Homo sapiens: one gene and its partner. The protein of the gene in region 1 interacts with the protein of each later gene in a biochemical or structural test. Each region holds a gene or a part of one and is shown on either strand. Other genes may lie near its edges. The genes, in order: PTPRU and OSTN.

Evidence for each region.
Region 2: the proteins of PTPRU (region 1) and OSTN form a complex in vitro, tested with the Homo sapiens proteins (one study listed by BioGRID).

Annotation. Positions count from the first base shown.
Region 1 is NC_000001.11:29,323,522-29,327,598, reverse strand, and holds the end of PTPRU (receptor-type tyrosine-protein phosphatase U isoform 1 precursor), read right to left. Parts: intron 3,969-4,077; coding exon 3,811-3,968; intron 2,409-3,810; coding exon 2,273-2,408; intron 2,001-2,272; coding exon 1,938-2,000; 3' UTR 799-1,937; downstream 1-798.
Region 2 is NC_000003.12:191,201,983-191,209,280, reverse strand, and holds part of OSTN (osteocrin precursor), read right to left. Parts: intron 2,351-7,298; exon of another isoform or gene 2,192-2,350; intron 1-2,191. UniProt on the Homo sapiens protein: Hormone that acts as a regulator of dendritic growth in the developing cerebral cortex in response to sensory experience. Induced in the brain following membrane depolarization and inhibits dendritic branching in neurons of the developing cortex.

The DNA of each region.
Region 1 (4,077 bases):
AGGCACAGAGGGTCAGCCAGTGTGCAAACAGAATGAGTACATCATAGAGTCAGCCTTCATATGAAGAAACTGAGTTCCAGAAACAGGAATTGTCTTGTCCAAGGTCAGGCAGCAAGCCTGTGACAGAGTCAGGAGTGACCCAGGTCCCTACCAGCCAGCCTGCTCCTCCTCCCTCTCTACCCCATGGAGGCGGCTGGGGCTGGGAATGGGCTGGGCTGGGGCAATGGGACGGTCATCCCCAGCAGGGCTGTGTCTCCTCTGCCCCCATCTCTGCGATGTTTGTAAAGTAAGCCCTTTCAACACGCTTGGCACTACATAAGGCACTTAATCATTACCTCATCTGATCCAAACAGGACTGTCCCCACTTTACAGATGATAAAGTAGGCCCCAGAGAGGGCACTAACTTGCCCAGGGTCTCGCAGCTGCTGGGCCCATCTGCCTGACACCAAAGCCTGAGCCTCCCATGCTGCCCCAGAAAGAGCTGAACCTGATCCAGGGCCCCCAGTGGAGTGAGAGGCAGCTCTGTGGCCCTCAGGGATCTCGAGTTGATATACCCTACCTGAGGAACTGCTTCAGAGGCCTGGATGGGGACAGCAATGGCCAGGGTCCCTTGGAACCAACTCTGAAAGTGGAAGGACCCTGAGTGATGTCCTGGTCCACACTCCCACCATTTTACGAATGGAAAAACCAGGACCAGATCAGAACCCAGGCTTCTCCAGGGCCCTCCCACTGCACTGGAGGCTGGGGGCAGGTGAGCAGGCCCCGTCAGGCTGGTGAGACACACACAGGGCTGCTCTGTGGCATTCAGAGAGCACGTTTATTTACAAAGCGCTTTACAAACATCAGCTTATGCCTCCCCACAGCCCCCTGCGAGGTAGGTCAGTAGTCATATCTACAGTTTACAGATGGGGAAATTGAGGCACGGAATGGGGGTGTGGCCTGCCCCATTTTAAAGAGACCTTCCCACCCACCCAACCAAAAATAACAAAAGAAACAAAAAAGCACTGGTCCTACCTCTTCCTCTGAACTCCAGAGGGTATGACCAGCCCTGCTCTAACACTGCCCCTCCCCACAACGGGCAGCCTGACCAGGAGCCACAGGGGCCTCAACCCCAGGGGCTGTTGTTCAGCCTTGCAGATTGTCACTGGCCCAAGCTGAGCAGGACAGGCCAGTGAGGCCTGAAGATTAAAGGAAGAGGGGGGCGAGGTGACTTCATTCTGCAACAGTGGGTCAGGCAGGGAAGGAGCCCCCCATGGGGCACAGCAGTAATAGGCAGATCCTGGTTCAGGGAAGCTCAGAGCACATATCAGGGAAGCAAGTGGGGAGGGATAGTGAGCAAAATATCTCAGGGGCTGCAGGGGGCAGTGGGGAGGAGGGCGCTGCAGTTCCCCTGGGGAGGACAGTCAGTGTGCCCCACTGGCTATTCAGAATTGAGACCTGCTTCCCCAGGACCTTCAGGGGCTGGGCCAGATGGAATCCTAAATGCCAAGTCCCAGTACATCCTCTACCCACATGCAGAGGGGGCAGGCTGAGTGGGAACCTTGGCCTGGGATGCTCTCTGCAGGGCCTCACTCATCCCTGCCAAAAGCCAGGATGGTGCCAAGGGGCTTGGCCTGAGTCCCCCAGAGCCAGCCGTCCTGAGCCTTTGTCACTCTGCCAGGCAGCACCAGGCCTCTCAGCACAGGCCTGCAGGACCCTATGGAGGTGGGGCTGGGCTGCAGACTTGCTAAGCTCCTCCTTGGCCCACCACCCGCCCATGGGACAAGCGAAAGGCCCTGCCCACAGTGGAAGGGGGAGCAAGATAGCCCAGCATCCACTCCAGTGCTTGCCCCATGGGAGTGTGTTTGGGCAGAGCAGGAGGCACTGATCTTCCTCGCCAGTCCAGGATGGTGGGTCTGGCCCTGAGTGTGCAGTGGGTGCCCCAGGCCAGGGCCCCGCTATCTTGACTCCAGCCCCTCCAAGTACTCCAGGGCCACATCGTAGCAAAAGTGGTACTGATCCTGGGGAGAGGAAGAGAGGGAGGGAATCATGAGCCTGACCCCAACTCCAGTATTGTGGGGGGAGGGGAACGGGGAGTGAGAGGGCAAGCACGAGCCCGAGCCCAGGCCCGCCCTCGGGGAGAAGGGAGAAATGGGGGTAATGTTTTAGGACCACAGGGCTAGAACCAAGGCCCAGTGGTGGGGCCCAGATATGGGAGAGTGGGTGCTAAGGAACCTGGCCTGGCATGGACCAGGAAGGTGGAAGTGGCTGGGCACGGGACACAGCCCCTCACCATGGTCTCCACCATGTTGGGTTTGTAGTTCCGGAGGGTTTTGGCAGCAAAGAAAACGTCCACCAAGTTGTGGCAGCGGATCATCTCCAGGACCGTGGCGCAGGCGCAGAAGGTGCCGCTGCGTCCTCCCCCGTTTCTGAATGAGAGATGCAAAAGCTGAGGGGCGGGGCCTTGGAACCTGAAGGTAAGAAAAGGGCCAGGGAACCACGAGGGAGGGGCAGAGAGCCTAGAGGAGAGGGACGGAGCTAGGGAATCTAGAAGGGTGGGGCAGAGAGCCCAGAGGTGAGGGGCGGAGTTAGAGAACACAGAAAGGAGGGGCCCGAGAGCCTAGAGGAGAGGGGCGGAGCTAGGGAACCCAGAAGGAAGAGGCCAAAGAGCCCAGAGATGAGGGGCAGAGCTAGGAAACCCAGAAAGGAGGGGCCAAAGAGTCCAGAGGTGAGGGGCGGGGCTAGGAAACTAAGGAGGGCCAAAGAGCCCAAGGTGAGGGGCAGAACTAGGGAACTCAGAAGGGCGGGGCAGAGGACCCAGAGGTAAGGGGCGGGGCTAGGGAACCCAGAGGGAGGAGCAGGACCAGGTTAAGAAGGATCAGAGGCTAAGACATCTCAGAAGACATATTCTCAAGGCGAAACAGACTGCGGATTCTGAGAGAAAGGAGGCCAGACACACTCCAAGAGAAACACCCGGAGAGACAAAGACAGTGACAAAGAAGGGCGGAGGAGCAGCAAGCGCGTACCCAGAGAGCAAGGTGGAACAGGAATGCTGAGAAGACTGGTCACCACCTGGCATCGTGGGCACACAGGCACAAACGTACCCAAACCCCAAGTCAAACCCACAGCCTCCCACAGAGCTCCATCCCCTCCGTGCCTCTCCCTCCTTCCCTGTGACTCCACGTGTGGGGTGCCTCCTGGGGAATGGCAGACTGATGCGGCCCTCACTCCCCTTCTCAGGGGTCTTTCCCACCAGAACCAAAACCCCTGGGGGCCAGACCCGGACTGACTCAGCTCCGCACCAGCTTCCAGTAGGCCCAGCCTGCCACTCGAAAGGCTCAGTAAATGCTGAAAGCATGAAAAAGTGGGGAGCAAAGGAGTGACTGCACCCAGACATGAGTGAATACATGAACTTATGAATGGGGCATGCAGATGGATGGATGGATGGATGGGTGGATGGATGGATGGATGGAAAAAGTCACATGTGTGCATGCATGAACAAAGACTGGAATTCTATTGGCATAAAAGTGTGCCACAATCTCATGGGGTAAAAAATTCTGACCAAGGACTCTAATTAAATTGGCAAAGTCAGACATCACACAGAGGATACTGGGCAGTTGTTCAGGGCTGAGTCTATAGCCTGGAAACTCACTGGATTCCTCCAGGGCCAGCCTTGGCTGGTTGGGCAGCATCCTGGCCACAGCCATCTAAGAGCCCAGGGGTTTCGGTGCCAGCTTTGCAGTCCAGCCAAAGCTGGCACCCTTTCAGACTGGACCTCTGCCCCTGGCTCCCCAACCCCTCCACCCGCCCTCCCACAGGGCAGGTACTCACAGGCAGTGCACGATGGTGCGCCCATCCCCACTCTCGGCCTGCCACTTGTCCACCTCAGCCAGCAGGTGCAAGAAGGCCTTCTTGGAGTCAGGTGTGTCCCGGTATGCAGACCAGCGCAGGAACTGGAAGTGCCGCACCAGCAGGTGCCCCTCCTGCAACTGGGGACAGGGGCAGCCAGCCAGGGAGGACATGAGCACCAGGGTCCCAGGGGCCCCTGATGACACAGAGGGTCATTAAAAGCTGCCCCAGCCACCACCCAGGGTCCTT
Region 2 (7,298 bases), on another chromosome or scaffold:
TTTTTCTCCTGATTTTGCTGATGTCTCTTTGACTTTACATAAAGGAGGATGTACTAAGAACATATCTGTATTTTTAAAATGATTTCATATTTCCGATATATCTTTTTTATTTATTTATTTTTGTGATGGAGTTTCACTCTGTTGCTCAGGCTGGAGTGCCGTGGTGCAATCTCAGCTCACTGCAACCTCTGCCTCCCAGGTTTAAGCGATTCTCCTGCCTCAGCCTCCTGAGTAGCTGGGATTACAGGTGCCCACCACCACACCCAGCTAATTTTTTGTATTTTTGGTAGAGACAGAGTTTCTCTATGTTGACCAGGCTGCTCTCGAACTCCTGACCTCAGGTGATCCACCTGCCTTAGACTCCCAAAGTGCTGGGATTATAGGCGTGAGCCACCACGTCTGGCCTGATATATCTTTTTAAAAGAAATTGTTGTCCCATTTAATCAAAGACAAACTACAATTCTTTATGTTTTCCTTTCTTGCTTTTTGTCATAAAAATAGGTTTCAAATGTGAAAATTGCCCAAATTTATATGCCTTTCCATGTGGATTTCCTTTAACTATTTTTATGTACATTTCACTAACCAGGTTTCTCCTCTTCTCTGTAATCTTATAAATGGTACAGGATGATGAGTGTTTACAATATTGATGATTATGTCTGAGGTATATATTTTTGTGCTTGGGTGTATATAGGAAAAAATCATGATGTATCATCTTACAGATAACCACATCCTGATTATTTGGATAAGGAGATGTAAAAATAAATGCTGAGTTTAAATACACACATTTAATGGTTTAAAGCCATGCTTGTAGCCAGTTAACCAAAAGGCCAAGTTCCTAAATGTGGCATTTGGTACACTAATGAAAACAAACACCCTGGCACCTGCCATACAAAAGACATTTGATTAACTAGTTGAAACTTGATTGCTACAAAATTAGAAATGGAGGAAATTATAGGGAGGAAAGGAAAAGTCTAAGTTCAGCCCCATTTTCCTATTTTTGTTGATAGTGGATAAATATAGCCCATGATTTAAAATCTCTTAGGCACCATGTATACTCTAGATCACAGAAAGTTCAATGAAAGGGTGTTCATTGATTGCGTGAATGCACCAAAGTAAAGGTGTTTGCATTTTTTTTTAGCACATCATTATTTAAAAGTAATTTTTGAGTAATATTTCTCTGGATAGTGTGGAGTTTCAAAAGAAACAGCGACCATGGAATCCGCCTTATAAGAAGATTATCTGTGTACGTCCTTCATTTTTTAGACAATTGGACTATTATGTGTTTTGACGTTTTAAATAATTCTGCTGAATAAACAAATGTCTTATGTTGTATAACATCTTATGCTTTATTTTAAGGACTTTCCACATGTAAGAATTGACTATACCCTGAAAGGATCTTTCAAACTGGCTAGAATGATGGTATATGGAATAACGCAGTGAGGTATAAAGTTTTGTCAGGAGGTATAAAATTTTGTCATTTATGTTTGGGATATATTGTATATTTTTAAAGAGGTGTTAGAGTTCCAATTCACATTAAAGGCTCTGAAATTCCAGCAATAAAGAAAAACTGGCTTAATTATATTTAAACCAGAGTTTAATAAGAAGCCTGTTAAGATGAAGAAAGATGTTTTTATTAGTAGGAATCAGTGTTGCAATGAGCTATTTTTATTGTGAAAAAAGTCTCTCATGTGGGCTGGGGTAGAAAAAAAGAGATTGAAAATCATTTATCTACAAAAGAAAGAGCAAACTTCTATGAGATGTATAAATGTTAGAGATGGTTAGGCTGAAAAAGAGAAGCAATGTAAGCCAGTATCTGATCTCATGCACCTATTAATCAATAAGACTTTTAAACTATCTGCATGTGAAGTCTGGTGTTGAACAACAAAAAAAAAACAACTCAGGTGTAAAGGACATTTCTCTTCAACCTGCAAATTTATGATTAACATCTGACTTATGGATAGTTGATCCAACAATTAGAAATTCACAAAGGTACTAGGTTTGTGAGTAAATCTTGATATTGTCTAGGAATTTTTAATTATTTACCCTAATACCTTGATTGGCAATACTCAAAATAGACTCCAGTCTCCTTTGAACAAAAATTTAAAATAAAGGACTTAATTAAAGGATTTACAAACTAATTCAACGGCTACATTTTCTTTACTTTCTCTTCTCACCGCGACAGAGCACATACATTTAAGAGATTTAGCAGGATATTTTATAAAGGGGCCTTAGTTCTGACACCATGAAATGACCATGCGTGCCTGCCGACAACACCGCCTAAAATCTTCTCCCATTGAAATAATGGTGTTCTTCCAGGCAAGTCGTGAGTCAGCTTGGCTCATAAGTAAGTCTGTAAAACATAATACGTTCTTCAGGTTACCCTTTACCCACTCCATTAAGTTATAAACACTCAGGAATAATAAATGACAGAGTGACAATAATTTTTTATCTTAGAAAAAGGCCTAAAAGGGACAGTGCTTAACACAAAGTCTGCATAGCTCTCTGTAATGGAAAAAAGACCTGATGCAAGAGTCGTGAGACTCAGGCTCTTCATTGCCTCTGTTGCTATTTAGTGATGTGATGTTGGGCAAACACTTTCCTCTCTAGACCAACTAAAATGGAGATGGTCTAACTGACCTCTAATGTTGCATCTGGCTTTTAAAGCTCACTGGTGAAGCTGGCTATTTTCTGGTAAAAGTGCAGACACTTAACATGTAGGTAATGAGAATAGTGCAGATTTAGCTAGGAAAACTGACTGGATGAGTTCCTCAAATCAGCCAAAGTTTATGCAAAAAATTGCATCTAGGCTGTGACAGAAATATTTTCCTCTTTCACTTTCAGTATTTTTAAAATTAGGTATTTCTAGCTGAAAAGAAAGAATCTCCAAATCTTTGATTTTGGGATGTCATTTATGGTAAGACATTCCATTTTTAAGAACATGTTAAGAAAAAACAATGCTACCAATTAAATTGATATGCTTATCAAATGTAAGACTAATTCCAATTTCAGAGATGTTAAATGTGAGGCAAAATTGATGACATATGGTAATATATTTATTTTAAAATGTTTACTTAGGATTTTTTTTTTTTTTTCTGAGATGGAGTTTCGCTCTTGTTGCCCAGGCTGGAGTGCAGTGGCACGATCTTGGCTCACTGCAACCTCCGCTTCCCAGGTTCCAGCAAGATTCTCCTGCCTCAGCCTCCTGAGTAGCTGGGATTACAGGCCCTGCCACCGTGTCTGGCTAAGTTTTGTATTTTTACTAGAGACAGGGTTTCGCCATGTTGGCCAGGCTGTTCTCGAACTCCTGACTTCAGGTGATCCACTCGCCTCAGCCTCCCAAAGTGCTGAGATTGCAGGCATGAGCCACTGTGCCAGGCCTTACTTAGGATTTTTTTCTTACTTCTCTTTTTTTTCCTATCATGCATAAGTCAGTATGCTCATTTCCCTACCCTTTCAAAACAAAAATTGTTAGAACTGAGGTTCCAGATGCCATAGAATGCAGTTATATCCTCTCTTTTAAGCTGAGAGAAAGAAAGACTTGTATGATATTTAACTTGGTTATCAGATAGAAATGTTGCAAGTAACATAAATAATATTAATAATTTAAAAATAATTGAGTACTACTCTCCTGCATTTTGAATTAACAGTCTGTCAAGACAAAATAATCATTTGAATATTTTCTCAGTAATCATGATCTTAATTTTAGTAGATATAAAATTGGTGAAGACAAAATACGAATTTTTGATAATAAGAATTTTCAGATCTCTACAACCTCCACCAGCATCACAAATGTGTGTGATATTAGTGAAGGTTTTATATACATATATATATATATATTTTTTTTTACTTGACGTGACTCCAAAAATTCTCTGTCAATGAAAGAATAAATATTCAAAAAAATATTCAAACTCTTTCAGACAATATACAGATATTCAGCATTATGCTGGGGAAAAACTCAGGCTCAGACTTGAAGGACAGGAATAAGAGGTTTAGCTGTGCTCCTTAATGGGCTAATGATCTTGAACAAGACTCTAAAATATTCAAAACTGTCTAATGAAACTGATTTTCTTCACAAAATGTAAGTTATTTAACTTTAGTTAATCTTAATTTACAAACAGCACAAATTATGGAATTGGCTTAGAGTTCAAATAAATAAGCCTTTTAAGTTTATATTTAATATTGTTTCCTAAAAATATATGAGGATATAAATTTATCTGTGAGAAAACTACACCTTTTTAATTTGTGTTTTATTATAACTAAAAACTTTACAACGGAAACTAAAATAGTATGTAGAAACACTTTGTAAACTATAATTTGAAAATATTATGTTTTTAAAACATAATTAAAAAAATTGTTTTGAAGTGATTGTTATGAAGCTGAAGGCAGATGTTTGAAGCCAATTTTTTTCTATGAACACAAAATTTACACCCAACAGTCACTTAGGGAACTTACAGCCATTCATAGGGACAATCTGCAAAACTTATATTGAAAAAACCAAAAGGATAAATTATAGTTTGTCATTCTATAGGTAATCTCGATATTTCAATAAGTGACAATATTTGAACAAAGTTTTAAAGAAGGTTTTTCTAGCTTTCTTTGATTAGGGAAGCACCCAGATGATTGAGAGACTTACCTGCTGGAAAGCAAAGATTGGGACCTCCAGCCATTGCGGTCTCTTTTTTTATTGAAACTGCGATTCCAGTCTCTGATGAATTTTGCCTCACAAACCAGATAACTGAGTGTGGCTGTGTCACTTAGAAGCTTAGAAATGGGTAAGAAGTTTGGGATCTTCATAAACTCAAATTCGAGATTTAAAATCATTGAGGATTTTCACCCAAGAGCAATTGAAAATTGCTAGTGGCTTGTAGCTTCTGTCAGTGTCACATATATCATCTATATTATCCTCATAAAAAATACATTTGAGAAATACTCGTGGTGCATAGCCATTTATTTAAACATTTCCTTCTGAAATTTGCTATTTTTAATAAATTGTGTAATGGGAATTTACTTTATGTTTTGGATTCCTGAAAAAAAGGAGCAAGCTGACATTGAGAAATTTAACATTTCCCGTTAAAAAAAAATTAAAATATCAGCTGGGCACGGTGGCTCACGCCTGTGATCCCAGCACTTTGGGATGCCGAGGTGGGCAGATCACCTGAGGTCAGGAGTTTGAGACTAGCCTGGCTAACACGGTGAAACCCCGTTTCTACTACAAATACAAAAAAATTAGCCAGGCGTGGCGGCAGGTGCCTGTAATCCCAGCCACTCTGGAGGCTGAGGCAGGAGAATCGCTTGAACCCAGGAGGCGGAGGTTGCAGTGAGCCGAGATTGCGCCATTGCACTCCAGCTTGGCCAACAAGAGCGAAACTCCATCTCAAAATAAATAAATAAATAAATAAAATATCAGGAATGTGTTCTTCCCATTTCTCAGTGCTCTTCAATTGGCAGTAGCAAATTTTCCAAAGTCACAAAGCCAGTTAGAAGAAGAGCCAGAACAACAACTTTCATTTTCAGACTCCCAGTTTCATGCTCTTTCGAGTATAACCTATTTGTGTAAGTGTAAAACCCTTTTCTATCTCCCAAACAAATTTTTTATAAAGTAATATTTTTATGGATGCAGTGTTATTAATGTGGCAGATACCTACATTTTAAAATGACTGTCCCTGAAGGCAACAAATTAGGAAGAATGATAAGTTACTAGAACATGTGTTAACTGATTTTATTCTATTTGGCACCATTTTCACTCTTTTTTAGATACTTTGCCTTCCAAAATCTTAAAATTTTATTTTTAACTATCTCTGTCTGTTTTTTTCCTCTATTTGGATTTGTGATTAATGCTACTAATCTCTTTCTTGCAAAAATTAAGAAGCCAGAAACCTACAATGCCACCTTAGAGAAAGATTCCATTATTATTTTAAACCCCCAGATCTGGATGTTTAACAAAGGGTTTAGTTGTTATAAACTCGTTTAGGGCAGAGACCATGTCATGTTCACCATTGCATCTCAGCACCTTACAGAATGCCTGGCACAGGGTCAAATGTGTGTGTTGAATGAATGCATGGAGCAGCCTTATGTGGAAGGTAAACAGGAATGCGGGGCAGATACTAATATCCCAGCTTTCTTGATACGAAAACCAAGGTAGAGGGAAGATAAGAGATTAGCCTATGTTTCTACAGCTACAGTAAAATGTGATGAAGTTCATGCTGGAATCCTGATACATCCATTAGTATTTAACATCACAGATTCTCATTCTAATGAAAGTTACATGCATCACTAACCTCAAATAATCATTCCTCTAAACTTTAGGATTTCTCCTTTTCATACATTAATCTGTACCTAAATCCCCAAATAACTAAATATTTCTTGATATAAAACTATGTTACCTAAAAATAGAAAATAACATTAGTATATAATTGTAGGCAATTCTGTTAATGAAATTTGTTGTTTAATTCTAATGCTCACTAAAGGGAAAATAGCTTTAAAACTGTACATAGGGAAAAGCTAATAGAGTTGCACATATCGGCTGGCCGTTCCATACATAGGCAACTTTTTACGCAGCATTAAAAGGCTTGCAGAGGGTAAAATTGGATAAATTAAGTTAAATATAGCATATTTAAATCTGAAGTTAATGTGGAATTTCACGACCCCCTTCACTGTTTACTCCACTTTGTACTTATATAAAATATTTGATCAAAATCTTACATCATAATTACATTAAGCTAGCCAACATAATAAATGGAAAAGTATCTCTAACATTAAACAAAGGGGCAAAAATATAAATTTTATACTACTCAAAAACAGGATGCATTTATTAGGCATACACTGCATGTCAGATACTGGGGATATAAAAGTAAAGAAGATACTTTCTCTGTCTTCCTGTTGCTCACAGCCTGGTTCAGGTGGAAACTCCTCAACCGCTTGTCCTGTCTAGGGATTTCCTTCTGCAAGAGCAGATCCTTTCTGGAATGCTTCCACTTTCTTCAAATAGAATTGTCATACATAAACTTTTGAAAAAATAACATTTGCATAGTGTTTTACTATCTTGAAATTAATCTCCTGTCATCCTTACAAGTCATGTTAGACCTATACAGAAAACATTATAATTCTATTTTTTAAACATCTGTGAACTGAGACAAGCTGAGTTACTTTAGAAATCTGGTCTCCTAACTCCTAGTATTGTATGTATACTTTGTAATACAACAAAGTGAATTAGTAGAAACAGGTTGACTCTTAAGTTACATAGACCTGGATCTGAATCCTGATTAGGCATGTCATTTAGCCTTTTTGTTTTAACTTCT